2 separate regions of the Homo sapiens genome follow, and region 2 is linked to region 1. The links come from fine-mapping of genetic effects on gene expression. Tissue or cell type: unexposed skin. Region 1 holds a variant in brackets; the other region holds the start of a gene. All regions are shown on one strand. Distances are from middle to middle.

The links. PIP is the estimated chance that this variant, and not a neighbour inherited with it, causes the effect.
Region 2: LCE5A starts here. The variant in region 1 is fine-mapped to the expression of LCE5A in unexposed skin (GTEx, PIP 0.92).

Annotation. Positions count from the first base shown.
Region 1 is chr1:152,786,690-152,794,937 of GRCh38, forward strand. It overlaps LCE1E (late cornified envelope 1E), which reads left to right. Exons shown (of 2, transcript NM_178353.2): 2 at 589-1,737. The coding sequence starts at 611. The coding sequence ends at 967. Among named protein-coding and RNA genes, the nearest start is that of LCE1E, 4.6 kb to the left of the region's middle. The variant C/T (reference allele first, on the strand shown) is at 3,720.
Region 2 is chr1:152,505,706-152,514,007 of GRCh38, forward strand. LCE5A (late cornified envelope 5A) reads left to right here and starts at 5,098. Exons shown (of 2, transcript NM_178438.5): 1 at 5,098-5,293; 2 at 5,809-6,472. The coding sequence starts at 5,830. The coding sequence ends at 6,186.

The DNA of each region.
Region 1 (8,248 bases):
TTAGGACACACCAAACCTGAGACTCACCATGCCCACCCATCAGCCTGAGCAGGTGGTAAGCTGAGGAAATCTGAGCTCCAGCCTAAGATCAGGAGGCCAGGGTTCAAATTCCAGGGCTGCAGGAATTTATGGGTTTGTCTGTCTCTGCTTCAACAAAGTAAGTTTACTGAGCCAGTAATATCCAAGATCTTTTGTAGTATGGATATTGCAGAGTAAAACTACCTTGCAAGTTACAAAAGGTAGTGATTACTTTTTCTCTTTAAGAAATAATTTTCCCTAAATGACCTATAAATCATATAATTTCAGGGTGTGAAGACATATTTGGAATAATTTCCTCCTTCACTTATAACACTTTGGACTGTCAGATGCATTTTGTAATATTGTTTGGTCTTAGTTTACAATTTTGTGTAGCAGATAACACACAAGGGTATCCTGAGCTTGCAAAGAGATGATGAGAGAATTTGGGGAAAGTATTGGAAGTGAAACTACTGGACATGATGTTTCCATAATTACAAGTCATGCTAAGAGTGTCAGAGGGGCAGAGGTGGCCTCTGCCTAGGTCTGATTTTCTGTCTGACTCTCCCTCAGCTCCTAAGTACCTACTGCCGAGATGTCCTGCCAGCAGAGCCAGCAGCAGTGCCAGCCCCCTCCCAAGTGCACTCCCAAGTGCCCTCCCAAGTGTCCCACCCCCAAATGCCCTCCAAAGTGTCCCCCTAAGTGCCCTCCAGTCTCTTCCTGCTGCAGTGTCAGCTCCGGAGGCTGCTGTGGCTCCAGCTCTGGGGGCAGCTGTGGCTCCAGCTCTGGGGGCTGCTGCAGCTCTGGGGGAGGTGGCTGCTGCCTGAGCCACCACAGGCACCACAGGTCCCACCGTCACAGACCCCAGAGCTCTGACTGCTGCAGCCAGCCCTCAGGGGGCTCCAGCTGCTGTGGAGGGGGCAGCGGCCAGCACTCTGGAGGCTGCTGCTGAAGTGGACCTTGACTTCCTCTTCCTTCTGATTCTGCCTGAATAGCTGAGAGGTTCCAGCAAAAGCTTGAAGTCTTGCCTGGAGAATCCCTCTGCTCTGGTGTCAGGAAACCCAAAATCTTTCTCCTTAATGGCATTTAGAGACTTTCTTCTGCAGATCCATGGCTGCCCTGGGAACTCCAAAGCACACACCTACTTCCTCCCCAGCTCACGCTGCTGTATTCTGTGCTGCCTGAACTGAAGAAATAAAATCCAGAATCTGCCCCCCAACTTGCTACCAGCCTGCTTGATTTTCCTGTTTGTGTCATCCTTGTTCTGCTCCCCTGTGTCTGCTGGTGGCTGCTGAGGCCTTGGTGGACAGAGGATGGGGAAAGGGGTCAGGAGGAAAAAGCTTGCATTTCTGTGTGTTTTGTGTTTTTTCTTCTTTCGGTGTTTTCCTTTTAAACCAAGGGACTGAAATAGCATTGAGAAATATTTTTCTTTCAAATTCTGGTTCCTTTCACCTATGTAACCGCATCCCTCAGGCATGGCCAGGAGGCCGACTTCATCCTCCTTCCCACTATCACCTCTTCATTCTTGTGTTCCTCGTTCCCCACTCCTTCCACTAACAATCTCCCTGGACTCCTCCTCCATACTGTATGTGCATGCATTCACACACACATATGTACATGCACATAGATGAGATGAATCTGCATTGTAAAAAAATTAAATCACATTTAGTGCTGTATAATTTGCATGCAATAAAATTCAATAAAATTAAATGTAAAATTAAATGAGTTTTGTCAAATATTTATAGCTGCATAACTATAATTGCAATAACACACCAAAAATGTAGTTAATTTATTGAGAAGATTTTCAAAATAACACAAAATCTAGAATACATAAATGAAAATGTGGATACAGTTAACCACATTAAAATGAAATTCTAAGTATCAGATAGTACCACTAAAAGCAAGGAAGGGTAAAAAATTAACTTGGGAAAATTATAATATATGTGATAGGGAGATGACTCATATTGGTAAGAAACATAGAGTTCATAAAAACTGAGTAAATAAATGTTCCTATAAAAGTTTTGGCAGAATTCATATTTCATTCACAAATAATTAATGAAGAAAACCAATAACTTCTGAAATTAGATTTTAAAAGCAATTTAATCTCATTAATAAAAAGAGCATAGCTCATCTTTTGGGGATGAGAACTCATTATTGGTTCACAAGCTTTCTGTGAGCATTTTAGCTTACAAAACATTGTTGTTGAAGCTATGTGGAAATGATCACTTACTCTTTGTAATTTAGAATGCTAACTGGCATAACAATTCATGCAACAGATTTATTTGGTGATTAATTTATTCATTTACCAATACTTATTGGATTTCTAGTATTAGGCAAATGAGGCAAAATATAATAATAAAAAATAGATATTTAAGAGTGTTCACTGCTGAAGTGACATCAGATGATGACATAAGATGGTAAATAAGGAACCTCCAGGCTCTAGCTCACTTCAGAGACATTGGACAATGATATAAAGACAAAAACAGCTTTCCGAAAACTTTAAAAACAAAGTAAGAAGCTTCAGCAACAAAGCAAAGTTTTAATAAAGAAAGTAACCATACTCAAATGGCAGGAAATTTTGTGGTGCTTTTGCTCACCCCTACCCCATCCCATCTTACGCATAATGTGGTGTGGTCAGAGGAGGCTGCGCAATTTCTCAGCCTTTCTTACAGATGGAAGGAAAAGAGTGGAACTTGCATGCAAGATTGTGGGTTGTGTGAGGACTGTGTGAGGAACTGGTTTTTGTCTCACCTGAGTTTAGAGCACCAATGAGTCAGTGGCATATTCTGGATATTCGGTTGAAGGCTGCTGAAAGCAGAGGCTGCACTGTGGCATGAAACAGCTGCAAGGGGACTGCAGACTTGCAAGTGCCTAAAGACAAGAGATTAGCAGCAGAGGAAAATCATAGGCAAAGTCTCCAAGAAGAAGCAAGAGTAAGACTCTGAAAAATGTAGACATTTAAAAGCAGTCAGGGAACTGAAACAAAAGTGTCTGTGCACACACACAAACACAAACACAAGCACGAACACTTGCTCAGGGAAGGTGCATCCCCAGAAAAGGTTTGAGAGGACTCTTGAGCCTTCACACTACACTGAAGGTTTTCCACAGCACAGAGCCAGCTCCCAAAGATGGAGAGACATGGCTGTTTTTGCAAACATCTAATTTTCAACAAAAAAGAAACACAAGGCATGTAAAGAGACAGAGGATTGACCTATTTACAGAAACAAAATATATCTCTAGAAACTGACTTTAAAGAAACACAAGCCACTGAATTCCTTGAAGAAGCTTTAAAACAATTGTCTTAAATGCTCAAAGAATTAAAGGAGAACACACAGAGACAACTAATAAAATTAAGAAAATTATGTATTAACAAATAAAAATATCAACAGATAGAAATTATTTTTACAAAAACTCACAAAGAAGTTCTGGGGCTGAAGAATACAATAACTTAATAGAAAAATTATTTAGAGAAGTTCAACAGCAGAGTCAAAGAGGCAGAAGAAAGAATCAGCAAATTTGAAGACAAGTTATTTGAAATTATTGAATTTGAGGAGGAAAATGAAAATAAAGCGAAAAAACCTGAGACTTATTAGACAAAATAGACTTTAACTCAAAGACTGTTACAAAAGACAAATAAGGACATTACATAATGATAAAAGGAATAATTTAACAAGAATATAGAACCATTATAAACACACATGTGC[C/T]TCAAATCAGAGCTCCAACATATACGAAGCAAATATTGACTGAGTTAAAGGGAGAAATGGAGAGGTCTTTAATAATAGTAAGAGACTTCATATTCCACTTTCAGTAATAGGTAGAACAACCATACAGAATATCAATAAGTATACAGAGGACATGGAATACACTATACATCAATTGGACCAAAAGACATATGCAGAACATTCCACCTGGGATTAGCAGAGTACACATTTATCTCAAATACACATGCAACATTCTCCCGGATAGGCCTCATACGGAAGCCCACAAAACAAGTCTTAATAAATGTTAAAATACTGAAACTAGACAAATATCTTTTTCCAACTACAATGGAATAAGACTAGAATTCAGTAGCAAAAGGAAAACTGGAAAATCCACAAATATGTGGAAATTAAACAACACACTCTTATACAACCAATGGGTCAGAGTAAAAATTACAAAGGAAGTTATAACATATCTTGAGAAAATGAAAATGAGAACACAGCATACCAAAATTTATGAGATGCAAAGAAAGCAGTGCTAGGAGAGGAATTTATACCTATAAACTCTTACATTAAAAAGAAAAAAAATCTCAAATCAGTAACCTAGTTTTACACCTTAAGACTTAAGAAACCAAAAGAAAATTAAAAAAATAAAACAAACAAACAAACAACAACAACAAAAAAAAAAACCGTCTGCATCAAAGCTAGTAGAAGGAATGAGGAAATAAAAAAAGATTAGGACAGAAATAAATGAAGTGAAAACTAGAAAAATCAATAGTGAAAATCAACAAAACCAAAAGTTTGTTCTTTGAGAAGACCACAAAAACTGATAAACTTTTCACTAGCTTGAAGAAGAAAAAAGAGAAGAATCAAAGAACTAAAATAAAAATGAGAGGGAAGGCATTACAACTAACTTATAGAAATAAAAAATTATAGGAGAATACCATGAACAATTGTATGCTAAATTGGATAACCTAGATGAAATGGATAGATCCCTAGAAACAAATCTGAAAAGACCTATAACTAGCAAAGATCAAAACTCTGCCAACAGAATAAAGTGCAGGACCAGACAGCTTCACTCATTAATTCTACCAAACATTTGAAGAGAAATCAACACAAATCTTACTCAATGCTTCCAAAAAATTGAAGAAATGAGGACATTTATGAATTCGTTCTCTGAGGCCAGCATTATCCTGATGCCAAAGCCAGAAAACTACATAACAATATCTCTGATGATATTGAGGGATGATAAAAATCCTCAACAGCATATCAAAAGGATTATACACCTTGACTAATTGTGAATTATTCCTCAAATAGCCAAACCAATGCTGAAGAAGAAAAATATAGTTAGAGTCACATACTTCCTGACTTTAAAACTTATCACAGACAGACATAGTGGTGCATACCTGTAGTCTCGGCCACTCAGGAGGCAGAGGATAGAGGATCCCTTGATCCCAGGAGTTCTAGACAAGCCTGAGCAACATAGTGAGACCTTGTCTCTAAAAAAAAATAAAAGTAAATTAACACAATTTATTACAACAAAGCAACCATAATGAAAATAATGTGTTATTGGCATAAAGATAGACATATAGGTCAATGAAATAGAATAGAAGAGTAGCAGAGAAACTTAAAATAAATAAACCTTCATATATATGGTCAAATTATTCTTTTTTTGTCCAAAAACAGGATCTTGCTATGTTGCCCAGGCAGGACTCAAACTCCTGGACTCAAGCAATCCTCCTGTCTCAGCCTCCCGAGTAGCTGGAGCTATAGGCACAAACTATCATGCCTAGCTGATTAAAATGATTCTTGATAAGGGTGCCAATACCACTCAATGGAGAAAGGACAATCTTTTCAACAGGTGGTGTTGGGAAATTTAGATATGCACATGCAAAAGCATGAAGCTGGACCCTCAGGTTACACCATACACAAAAATTAACTCATTAAGGATCAAAGACATAAACATAGAGTTAAAACTACAGGCTGGGCGTGGTGGCTAACCCCTGTAATCCCAGCACTTTGGGAAGCCAAGGCAGGCAGATCACAAGGTCAAGAGATAGAGACCAGGCTGGCCAACATGGTGAAACCCCATCTCTACTAAAAATACAAAAATTAGCTGTGTATGGTGGTGCATACCTGTAGTCCCAGCTACTTGGGAGGCTGAGGCAGGAGAATCGCTTGAACCCGGGAGGTGGAGGTTGCAGTGAGCCAAGATCATGCAACTGCACTCCAGCCTGCACGACAGAGCAAGACTCCATCTCAAAATAAATAAATAAATAAATAAACTACAAAATTTCTAAAAGGAAACATAGGAGGAAATCTTCATGACATTGGATTTGACAATGATTTCTTAACTATGATACCAAAAGCACAGGCAACAAATGTAAAAATAGATAAATTAGACTACATAAACATTAGAAATGTATGTGAATCAGTGAACAAAGTCAATACCATGAAAAGGAAATCTTTGTTATGGGAGCAAATATTAGCAAATCGTGTATCTGGTAGTGGGTTGCTATACAAAATATGTAAAGAACCCCCACAATTAAACAACAAGTAAACAAACAACCTTATTAAAAATGGAAAAAAAAACTTGAATAGACACTTATCCAAAAGAAATTTACAAATAGCCAAAAGACACATGAAAGTATGCTCAACACCATTCATAATTAGATTAAATTATTTAAAGTAAAACCCACAGTAAGATATCACTTCAAACCCGAGAGAATGACTACTATAAAAAATAAAGCAAAACAAAACAGAAAATAACAAGTGTTGGTGAGGATGTGGAGGAATTAGAACCCTTGTGCACTGTTGGTGAGCATATAAAATGGTATAATTACTATGAAAAAGAGCATGGTGATTCCTCAAAAAGTTAATAGAATTAACATAGGGTCCAGCAATTCCACTTGTGGGTATATACAATACAAAAAGATTGAAAGTAGAGTCTTGACAGGGTACTTGTACACCCACGTTCATAGCTTTATTATTCACAATAGCTAAAAGGTGGAAGCAATCCAAGCATTCACTGCTGGATGATTATAGAAGCAAAAGGAGGCATACACATACAATGTGATATTATATGGCCTTAAAAAGGTAAGAAATTTATGCACATGCTACAATATGAATGAATCCTAAAGATATGCTAAATCAAATAAGCCAGTCACAAAAAGACAAACACTGTATGATTCCACTTATGTGAGATATGGGGTGTAGTCCATTTCATAGAAAAAGAAAGTAAAATGGTGATTGCCAGGGGCTGGGGAGAGGGAGTAAGAGAGAACTGTTGTTTAATGAGCGTAGAGTTTCAGTGTTGCAAGAAGACAAAAATTCTAGAGATTGGCTACACAACGATGTGATGCTATTTAACATTACTAAACTGTGCACTAAAAAAATGATTAAGACAGTAAATTTTGGATTATGTATTTTACCAATTTTTTTAGGAAAGTATTCACTGCAAAAATTTAGGAGAGTTCAACACAGTTGCAGTATATCAATATATTAACAATCATAACAACAACAGCAATAAAAATATTTTTAAAATATACTATTTAAATAGAATAGAATTTTCTTCTAGACTTTAATAGTATTTTCTCATCACTGTAATTGTTTAAAGGGTTGTAGATATGGAAAGAACAAAACAAAGATTACTAACTTAACTTGTTACTGGTTATAGAACACATACAAAAAATTATTCCATTTGAATTATTTCTGGTTAGATCGCAATAGTATTCACTCACATCCCATGAGACGGTGAATTTTTGACTACCTAAAAGAGAAAAACCTTGACAAATAGGAAATTTCAGAAAGTCAGTGCTTTGCTGGACAAGATATCTTATTTGACCTAATAGCTAAGCCATGATATCTCATAGCCAAGATTCAAGTTCCAATCTTCCTAATACAACTATGTTGCTGACTCAACACCTACATCTGAGTTATGTCAGTTGAGAGCTTGGGTGTTGCCCTGCATGAAGACAGAGGCATGGACCAGATGGTATCCCAGCCCTATCATCCTAGATACCAGGAGTTGAACTTCTGAGTAGACCTGCCATTGTGACGACCTGGGAACCAATGTCCTGACCACTCCCCCATTACTAAGCCCTTTGGAACAATCTGAGCAGGAGAACAAATGTCATACCCAGGAGGGATGGTGTCAGACCTCTCAGGGTGATGTGGCCCACACACCTCACTGAGCCTGTCTCAGAGTGTGTCTCCTATGAGGGTGGCCTGAGTCATAAGGAATAGCTGTTTATAAACTGTAAATCAATGCTAATACCAATGAGAGCATTTAAAAGTCATTAAATATCCATTGTGCACATAGCTCTGTGTTGAAAAACGGAGGTAAGAAGTATGAAACACCCAAGGCAGGCCATCAAAGCATTTACTGTTATCTCATTAGAGTGATATGCCACATGAAGGATAAATAAAAAAGTGGGATTGAGCCACACTGTCCTGGAAGGGTAGAGGCCACGGCATGCACTGCAGGGAGAAGCATAATCAAAGTACAGAATATAATCCAGTTCAGTTTCAGAACA
Region 2 (8,302 bases), 280 kb before region 1:
TAACATCTGTGTGACCTTAGACAAATTTCTTGGCCTCTTTGAGCATTGATTTTACCTTTGAATAATAGGGGTAGTAACCCTCTCTTCTACAAAATTGGGTTGTTGAAAAGATTCCAGTAAAGGAAGGAATGCACAAACACCTCATAAATGGTAAAATGCTCTCCAGAGGTTAAAGAATAAGAAGCTCTCGTCTTCCTGAGAAGAGGTGCAAGTAGTATCTTGAAAATTCAAATAAGCCCAAAGTGGTGGCAAGTTGTCCATCCTACTCTATGGAATTCTTCAAGCTCCAGTCCAGGAAATAAGTAGCTGGGAGCTTTAAGTCCAGTGGAGGGACCCAGGAATGCACTGGCAACCATCATGACATCTCTGTTTTCACTGATGATGGTGAGGACAAGACTAATAATGACCAGAATAAGAAGGGCTAAAAATTACTGAGCGCTTCTTATGTGCCAAGTCTAGGATGAAGGGCTTTGCAGGCATTATCTCATGGAGTCCTCATACAACAAGCATGGCCATAAGCACTGTTATTATCCTCATTTTATGGCTGAGGAAACAGGTCCAAGGGGTCACATAGCTAGCAAGGGGCAGAGCTGGGACAACCCAGACAGCACTTTATCTATCTGTAAGAGTTTTCTCTGTCACCTCTTCACTGAGCTTCCCTTGGCCTGACGACATTCTATTAGCCTCAGAGGCATTGAGGATCCTCTTGATTGGTTTTGATTGCTGCTGTAACAAATTACTGCAAATTTAGTTGCTGAAAACAACACACAGGTATTATCTTATAGTTCTGCAGGTCAGACTGGCATAGGTGTCACTAGGCTAATATCAGGCTGTTGACAGGGCTGTATTCCTTCTGGAGGCTCTAGGGAAAAATCTATTTTCTTACCTTTCCCAGCTGCTAGAAGCTGCTTATATTCCTTGGCTTCTGTCACCTTCTTACATTTTCAAAATGCCTCACTCCAGCCTCTGCTTCTGCTGATAAATCTCCCCTCTCTGACGTTGACCCTTTTGCCTCCCTCTTGTAAGGACCTTTGTGGTTACAGTGAGTCCACCTGCATAATCCAGGAAAATCTCCCTATTTCAAGATCCCTGACTTAATCACATCTTCAAAGTTCCTTTTGCTGTGTACGGTGATATATTCACAGGTTCTGGGGATTGAAATGTGGACATCTATGCACAGGAGGGGTGGGCATTATTCTGTACACTATTCAGACTTTACATCAGGGCAACAGTGAGCAGTGGGAATAAGACAAATAGAAAAATTCCCTTTCCAGTGTTAAACTCCAGAATCAGCCTGCAGTGGGTGAGAGCAACACTGTGCAAAGGCCCTCATGGAGGCAGTTCCCAGGCCACAGTCCAGCACAGAGAAGCAAAGGGAGGTCAGGGACAAATGTTTTCAGGGCTCCCAAATCTGTCCAGGGCTGGCGGTGTTCAGATGACCTAAGGGGCATGTCTAGTTTTGCTCACCATCAAAACCTGAGGTTGTTATGCAACCTCATGCTCACTGAGTGCTGGCAGATTATGATGACTTCTTTCAGGAGTTTTCCTACAGGAAGACAATGTACCTGCCAACATTGACACTCAGGTTTCTCTTTGTAAGTTGATGTCATCACAGTCTCTTGTGAGTTAGGTGCAGTGAATCAGTCTCCACAGGATTAATCAGCTCAGGGACATGGACTAAGGAACTTAGCCATGCTAAGGCTAAGAGTTGGACTTCTGGGCTAGGGAACAGTCATCCAGATAGTGCCATCCTGGGGAGGGTTCTTGGGGGTCTGCCAGCTGGCCTATCCCTGGCAATGCCAGACACTGCCTGTCCAACACAGGTAATCAATCCCTGGTTATTTAGTAGAGGTAATGATCACTTCCAATTTTTTCATATGTGCAATTCAGGCTGTGATTCCCCATATTTATTACTATTTTCACTCCAAATTCAATAGCCATGTTTAACAAGCAAATTATATAAAATAAATCTTGCTGGAAAAAATCACAGTAAGAAATAAAATACTATTCAAGAGGCAGAGTGCTATGATGGAGAGAGGGCAGATAGCAGGTTTTGAATTCCATCTCTGCTCCCAACTCTCCATGTGATCCAGGGAAAGCCTTTTTCCATCTCTAAGTCTCAGGTTCCTTTTCTGTCAAACAAGGGGCATGATCTAAATCAGCAATTATCAATCCCAGTGGTGCAGCAGAGCCACTTGATGGACGTCTGGAGAATGTCAAAGCCTAGATCTCACCGGGGTTGAGAACCACCGGCTCTGAATGATGGCCAAGGTCCTTTCCACAACTATTCTATCATCCCATGAAATGTCTAGAATTTGTTAATGAAAATCTGGGTTTGGATTTGTTTGAGGCATTCATCTTGCTTGCTGAATAGTAAATTCAACTGAACAAGGAAATGAAAACTGAGCACCTGCTGCCTACAAGGCACTAAATTAGACCCCTTAGGGATTCCTGCACTAAAGACCTTACCATGTGGTCAGATAGGTGGGTCGTGTGCCCAAACAATTATAACTAAAAGGGGATGGACATTGTTCCTTTTAGAATTCACCAAACCCATGTTTTAAATGGGTAATTCCTTTAATTTTACTGGGATTCCCTTTCCAGAAATTCAGAGCCTGTGTTCTACCTTCTTGCTTATACTTCTCCACAAGGAGGGCAGAGACAGATCCGACGCCCCAACCCTGTGGTCTTTATCTAGGCCTGCCCTGAGTGCTGGAATTTAGAAGTGACACAGCATCAGTTTTCATTTTAAACATTTATTGAATGCTTACTATATGCCGGGCACTTTTACAAGAGTTTTAGGTATGTTAACTCAATTTAATGGCCCCATGAGATAAACACTACTTTTTTGACCATTTCACAGGCGAGGACAGTGAGGTGGAAAGCTCATATCACTTGTTCAAAGTCACACCACTGGTAAGTGGGGAGTTGGGATTCAAACCCAGAGACTGGATTTAGAACTCACGCTCCCAGCCGGGCACGGTGGCTCACACTTGTAATCCCAGCACTTTGGGAGGCCGAGGTGGGTGGATCACGAGGTCAGGAGATCAAGACCATCCTGGCTAACACAGTGAAACCCCGTCTCTACTAAAAATACAAAAAGTTAGCCGGGCGTGCGTGGTGGCAGGTGCCTGTAGTCCCAGCTACTTGGGAGGCTGAGGCAGAAGAATGGCGTGTATCCAGGTGGCAGAGCTTGCAGTGAGCAGAGATCGATCGCACCACTGCACTCGAGCCTGGGTGACAGAGCAAGACTCAGTCTCAAAAAAAAAAAAAAAGAACTCACGCTCCCAACCACTTATAAATAGATTCTGTGCCCTTCATGAAATGTTCTTATGGCTACCAAAAATAATGCTTCCAAACAACGAATAACATGGGAAATGTTGATGTTAAAATGTTAAGTGAAAAGTTAGTAAAGTAAACTCATGTAAGTACTATGAGAAAGACTATGTAAAATACAAACAAAACTCAAATAACAACAACAACAACAAAACCACTATATATAGAAAAAAATGACGGGAAGGAAAATAGCAAAATAGTAACCATATTTTAGGGATGGGATTATAGGTGATTTTAAAATTCTTCCTATTTTTTGGTGTTTTTAAATAATGAGTATGCTTTCTTTATAATCTCATTCCCTAGTGACAAGCAAATACTCTTAATATTTTGCTGTAAGAAAACATCGAGTCTAAGTTCTGATATCATAAAAATTAGTTTTGGTTTCAAAATTGGCAGGTCAGTAATTTGAAATTTAGCATATATTTTCTCATGGAAATAAGGATAGCCATAGTGATTAGTTTTTTCTTTTTTAAACTTGCAGTTCTAGGAACTGTGCTAAGAACTTCATCTGTATTTCTTTATTCAGTGGATTAGGAATGTTTTCAGCCCCCTTTTCCAGTGATGGTTAAGTAACTTGCCAGAGGTTGCACAGGTGGAGAGAGCAAGGGTGGGAACTGATGCTGGATGTCCCTCTCCAGGGTCTGTGTTATAACTGGGCTGATGCTTCTCACTGCAGCCCATTTCAAAGAGCATGGAGCTAAGGTACTGCCTTTTTCTCCCAGTCTTATTTTCTCTCACTGCAGCTTTCATTGTGAATATGCCATATTTTGGCCACCCTTTCCAGCTAAGTCAATTTTGATAACTATCCTGGGGACCCAACTTTCCCTCAGAATATTGTTTGCTGAGAAAATGTTTTGGATCCCACCATGGGCTTTTAAAACCTATATACTCCTCCTCTTCACCTCTCCATCCAAAGATTAATCTTCTCCTGAGGTCCTTCCCAGGTTGGATGCTCTTCTCTTATGAATGACCAGAACTGGTGCCTCACTTCTGGAAACCTCCAGATGAGTGGAGAGCTTTTGCTCCACCCTCAGTATACACCTGGTCTTTGCTGCCTCACCTCGAGCTGGCCAAGGGCACCTTCTTTAACACGAGTAAATAAGCCATTCCTAGACTTCTGCCCTTTTAAAGGCATTGTTAGTGCTGAATCGGTACTGTTTGTGAGCAGTTTTGGAGCATCAAATTCAGGCAAGGAGAGAAGCCCAACCACCCACACTGTCAGCATTAGATCTGCCTAAAATAACATCACTGAGATATCAAACCTTCCTTGTTCTGGTTATGGCATCATCTAGAAATGAAAAAAAAATCATGTTAGATTATTTGCTTGGGCCTACAATTTTATTTTGGATCTCTATTATTATTCTAAAAAGGGCCATTTAATTTCCATCTTGGGAATTTTCTCCTTCAGTTCCTATACCAAAGAGAAAACAGAACTTCTGTTCATTCCAGAGGTGTAGAGCCGTATTGGCCCAGCTCAGAAAATAGAAGGCATAGCAGAGCTGCCTGTGAGATAGATAGGTGCCATGTGCAATTCACAGAGCTCCCTCACCATCCTAGAGGCCTGCAGTTCTCAGGGGATCTTCCTGTGGGTTAATACTTGAGATGCTTATGCAGGGAGGAACTGGGTCCCTGGGATGCGAGGGGAGGGAGTCACCCATGCCTTTATGAAAGATGCTTCTAGCGTCCCGCACATGGTCTGCACCTCCTGATGCTAGGTCAGGACTGAATTGTATAAAAGGCAGAAGCTTCTGACAGCACCTCAGTCTACCTGTCTCCTGAGTGATCTGCTGCAGTGCCTGAACCAGGTAGAGTGCTTCTCAGGACCAGGATGAACTCTTGGTGCTGGTGTTTTGGGCAGAAAGAGCCCCTGGGTGGAGGTTGAGGCCATTCTTGAAGAAAGACAAGGATAAAGAAGGATTTTGGAGGGGAAGGTTCTTCTGGAAGGGGAGGGTGGAAGGTAGGTAAAAGGAATGAAGGACTGATGCCTTTCTGAAGTTCCAAGTTATTCATTTGAAAATATGGAGTTACTAGGTGGAAATCATTTGTATCATTCTTGTTACTGGTCTTGGGAGACTGGGTTTTTAAAATCTGGTTCATCTTAGGCCAGGAGTAGTGGCTCATGCCTGTAATCCCAGCACTTTGGGAGGCTGAGGTGGGCGGGTCAAGAGGTCAGGAGTTCGAGACTGACCAACATGCTGAAATCCCGTCTCTACTAAAAACACAAAAATTAGCTGGGTGTGGTGGTGCACACCTGTCTGAGGCAGGAGAATCACTTGAATCCGGGAGGTGGAGGTTGCAGTGAGCCGAGATAGCACCACTGCACTCCAGCCTGAGTGACAGAGTGAGACTCCATCCCAAATAATAATAATAATCATAATAATAAATTCTGGTCATCTTAGAGATAAAATCTTGTGAAATTATAGTTCAATTTTAAGGGCAAGGAAGTGACCTTGGGCTTGTATTGTCTTTCAGCTTTATTCAGCTTCTACAGAGATGTCCTGCCAGCAGAGCCAGCAGCAGTGCCAGCCTCCTCCCAAATGTACCCCTAAATGCCCTCCCAAGTGTACTCCTAAGTGTCCTCCCAAGTGTCCCCCAAAATGCCCTCCCCAGTGTTCAGCCCCATGCCCACCTCCAGTCTCTTCCTGCTGTGGTTCCAGCTCTGGGGGCTGCTGCAGCTCTGAGGGTGGTGGCTGCTGCCTGAGCCACCACAGGCCCCGCCAGTCCCTCCGACGCCGACCTCAGAGTTCCAGCTGCTGTGGCAGTGGCAGTGGCCAGCAGTCTGGGGGCTCCAGCTGCTGCCACAGCTCTGGGGGCTCTGGCTGCTGCCACAGCTCTGGAGGCTGCTGCTGACCTGGGCCATGAGGAGCACGGAGGAGAAGGACTGGCAGATCCCAGGTGCTGAAGATGTGTGTCAGCCTGAGGCTTCTTTTCTCTCATTTCCCATGGAAGGACTTCGGAAATGCCTTAAGTTCCCCTCTTTATCCTGCCCATGTTCACTCCATTGTAGGGTTGAAGTCTAGCTTGTGATATTTTCTGGCCTGGCTTTCCCTCTCAGACATAGCTCTTTGGAGAACTAGGTGTTGTAATTCAGTTATGAAGCTATTTTCTCTGTAACAATAAAGCTTTTTATTCCTGATATCACTGCCTCCTGATTTCATTGTTTGCCTCTCCCACTCCCTACCTGCTGCATCAAGCCATCTTCCCTTCCCTTCTCTTAAATGCAAGCGAACACTTTACAAACTTGTTTAGGAAGCACATTTTGGCAGTGAAGCTACTTAGGCCTCTGGAAAACAATATTTCCTTCTATGCACTGGATTCTGGAACTTTAAGCTTGAAGGAAAGAATAATGTCTGAGACCATTACGCCAGACACAAGATTGTATGAGGAGAGCCAGGAATGGGTTTGAAGAGAAGAGGATGGTTGTACTCAAAAGGTTCAGGTTCTGAGAGGGTTTCCTTCAAGCATGGGTCACAGTTTGAAAAATTGCTTGTCCCCATTCATGGGGAATAAGATTGCCTGAAGTGCTCATCCTGGGCTCTAATAAATGGACACTCTTTACTTTTCTGATTATTATAAGCTCAGGTGTTTCCATCAGTTGGCTAGAGGGAGAGCTGGGTGGGCAGTGAGTGAGTTTTGGAGGCAGATATGAAACGTCTGAGCACATTTTCCCTGCATGCTGAAATCCTGGATTTGAATCTGGGTAAAGAACTGAGAAAGACACCCTTCTTTGCAAAGACTGTCTCTATGTGGTTGGGACGTACGTGTGTGTGTGTGTGTGTGTGTGTGTGTGTGTGTGTGCAGTGAGAGGTATAAGAGTACAGGGGTTTTGGTCCCTGTGTTGGGTTTTCCAAGCAACATTTCTTTAGGAATGGGCTGGTTCCTTCAGGAGACACTCATAATGTACCTAGAAAAGATAACTAGAAAAGTTAATTCCAAATCAGCCTTTAATATAAAAGATAAACAATTGATGCCTCCTTTGATAAGAGTTAATAGCGATAAATAAAGTAAGCTGGTTTATGAGATCATAGGATGCCCACAGAATGAGTAGGCACTTGCCCAGATTATCTCCTTATACTGATTCCTACCAAACGTTCTTCATTCTTTTTTTTTTTTTTTAAAAGAACTTTGCCCATTTTCCCAGAGGAGATCCTGCCTCTGTCTTGTTATTTCATTACTTCCTTCTCTGTTCTAATATTGACTTTACTTTTTGGAATGTCTCACCTATACTCACCAACAGGTGCTCTAGGAACTGGCAACCTGTTAATCAGGCTCTAAATCCATGTTAAATGAAACTGGTATCTTTTGTGACTTATCTTTCCTCGCCTAGTCCCTTGAGCCACTCCCAGCTCACTCGCCCCCAAACCTGTCTCTCATCCTTAATTCCTGAATTCTTAGTCTTGGACTTCTGTTATAGTTCACATTCACAGTTGTGGGCAATTTGATTAAGAAGCAGTTCTGAAGTTGACTGCCAAAGTATCCTCCAATTCTTAAAAATTAGTTATTCTGAAAACACTATCTATCATGAACACTTTGGACCTTTGGAAAGAACTTTCTTTCTTTCTTTCTCTTTTTTTTCTTCTTTCCCTCCCTCCCTTCTTCCTTTCCCATTTTCTTTTGCACTGGGCAGTGGCCCTAGGGAGAACTTATCTTCAAAGGCAGATTGGTGGTTGGGGGTGGGATAAGAAGCAGGAGTCCCACAGGCTGACTAGCCTTTTTGCAATTGGGCCACTGTCCTGCACACATTTTTCTCTTTGTCATACCATGCTGTATTATGGGGATATGGCAACCTGACTACATTCACAACTTTTCTGGTCTTATGGTTCCTTAACTTTGCCTAGGTTTTTCTTCCTGTCTCCAGTGACAGAGAGAAATCACCCCTGGGGTTCCCAAAGGTGCATCCCCGTCATCATCTTCACTCACTGCATCTTGAAGCATATGGATGAAACCCAGCAGGCTTATCGCATAG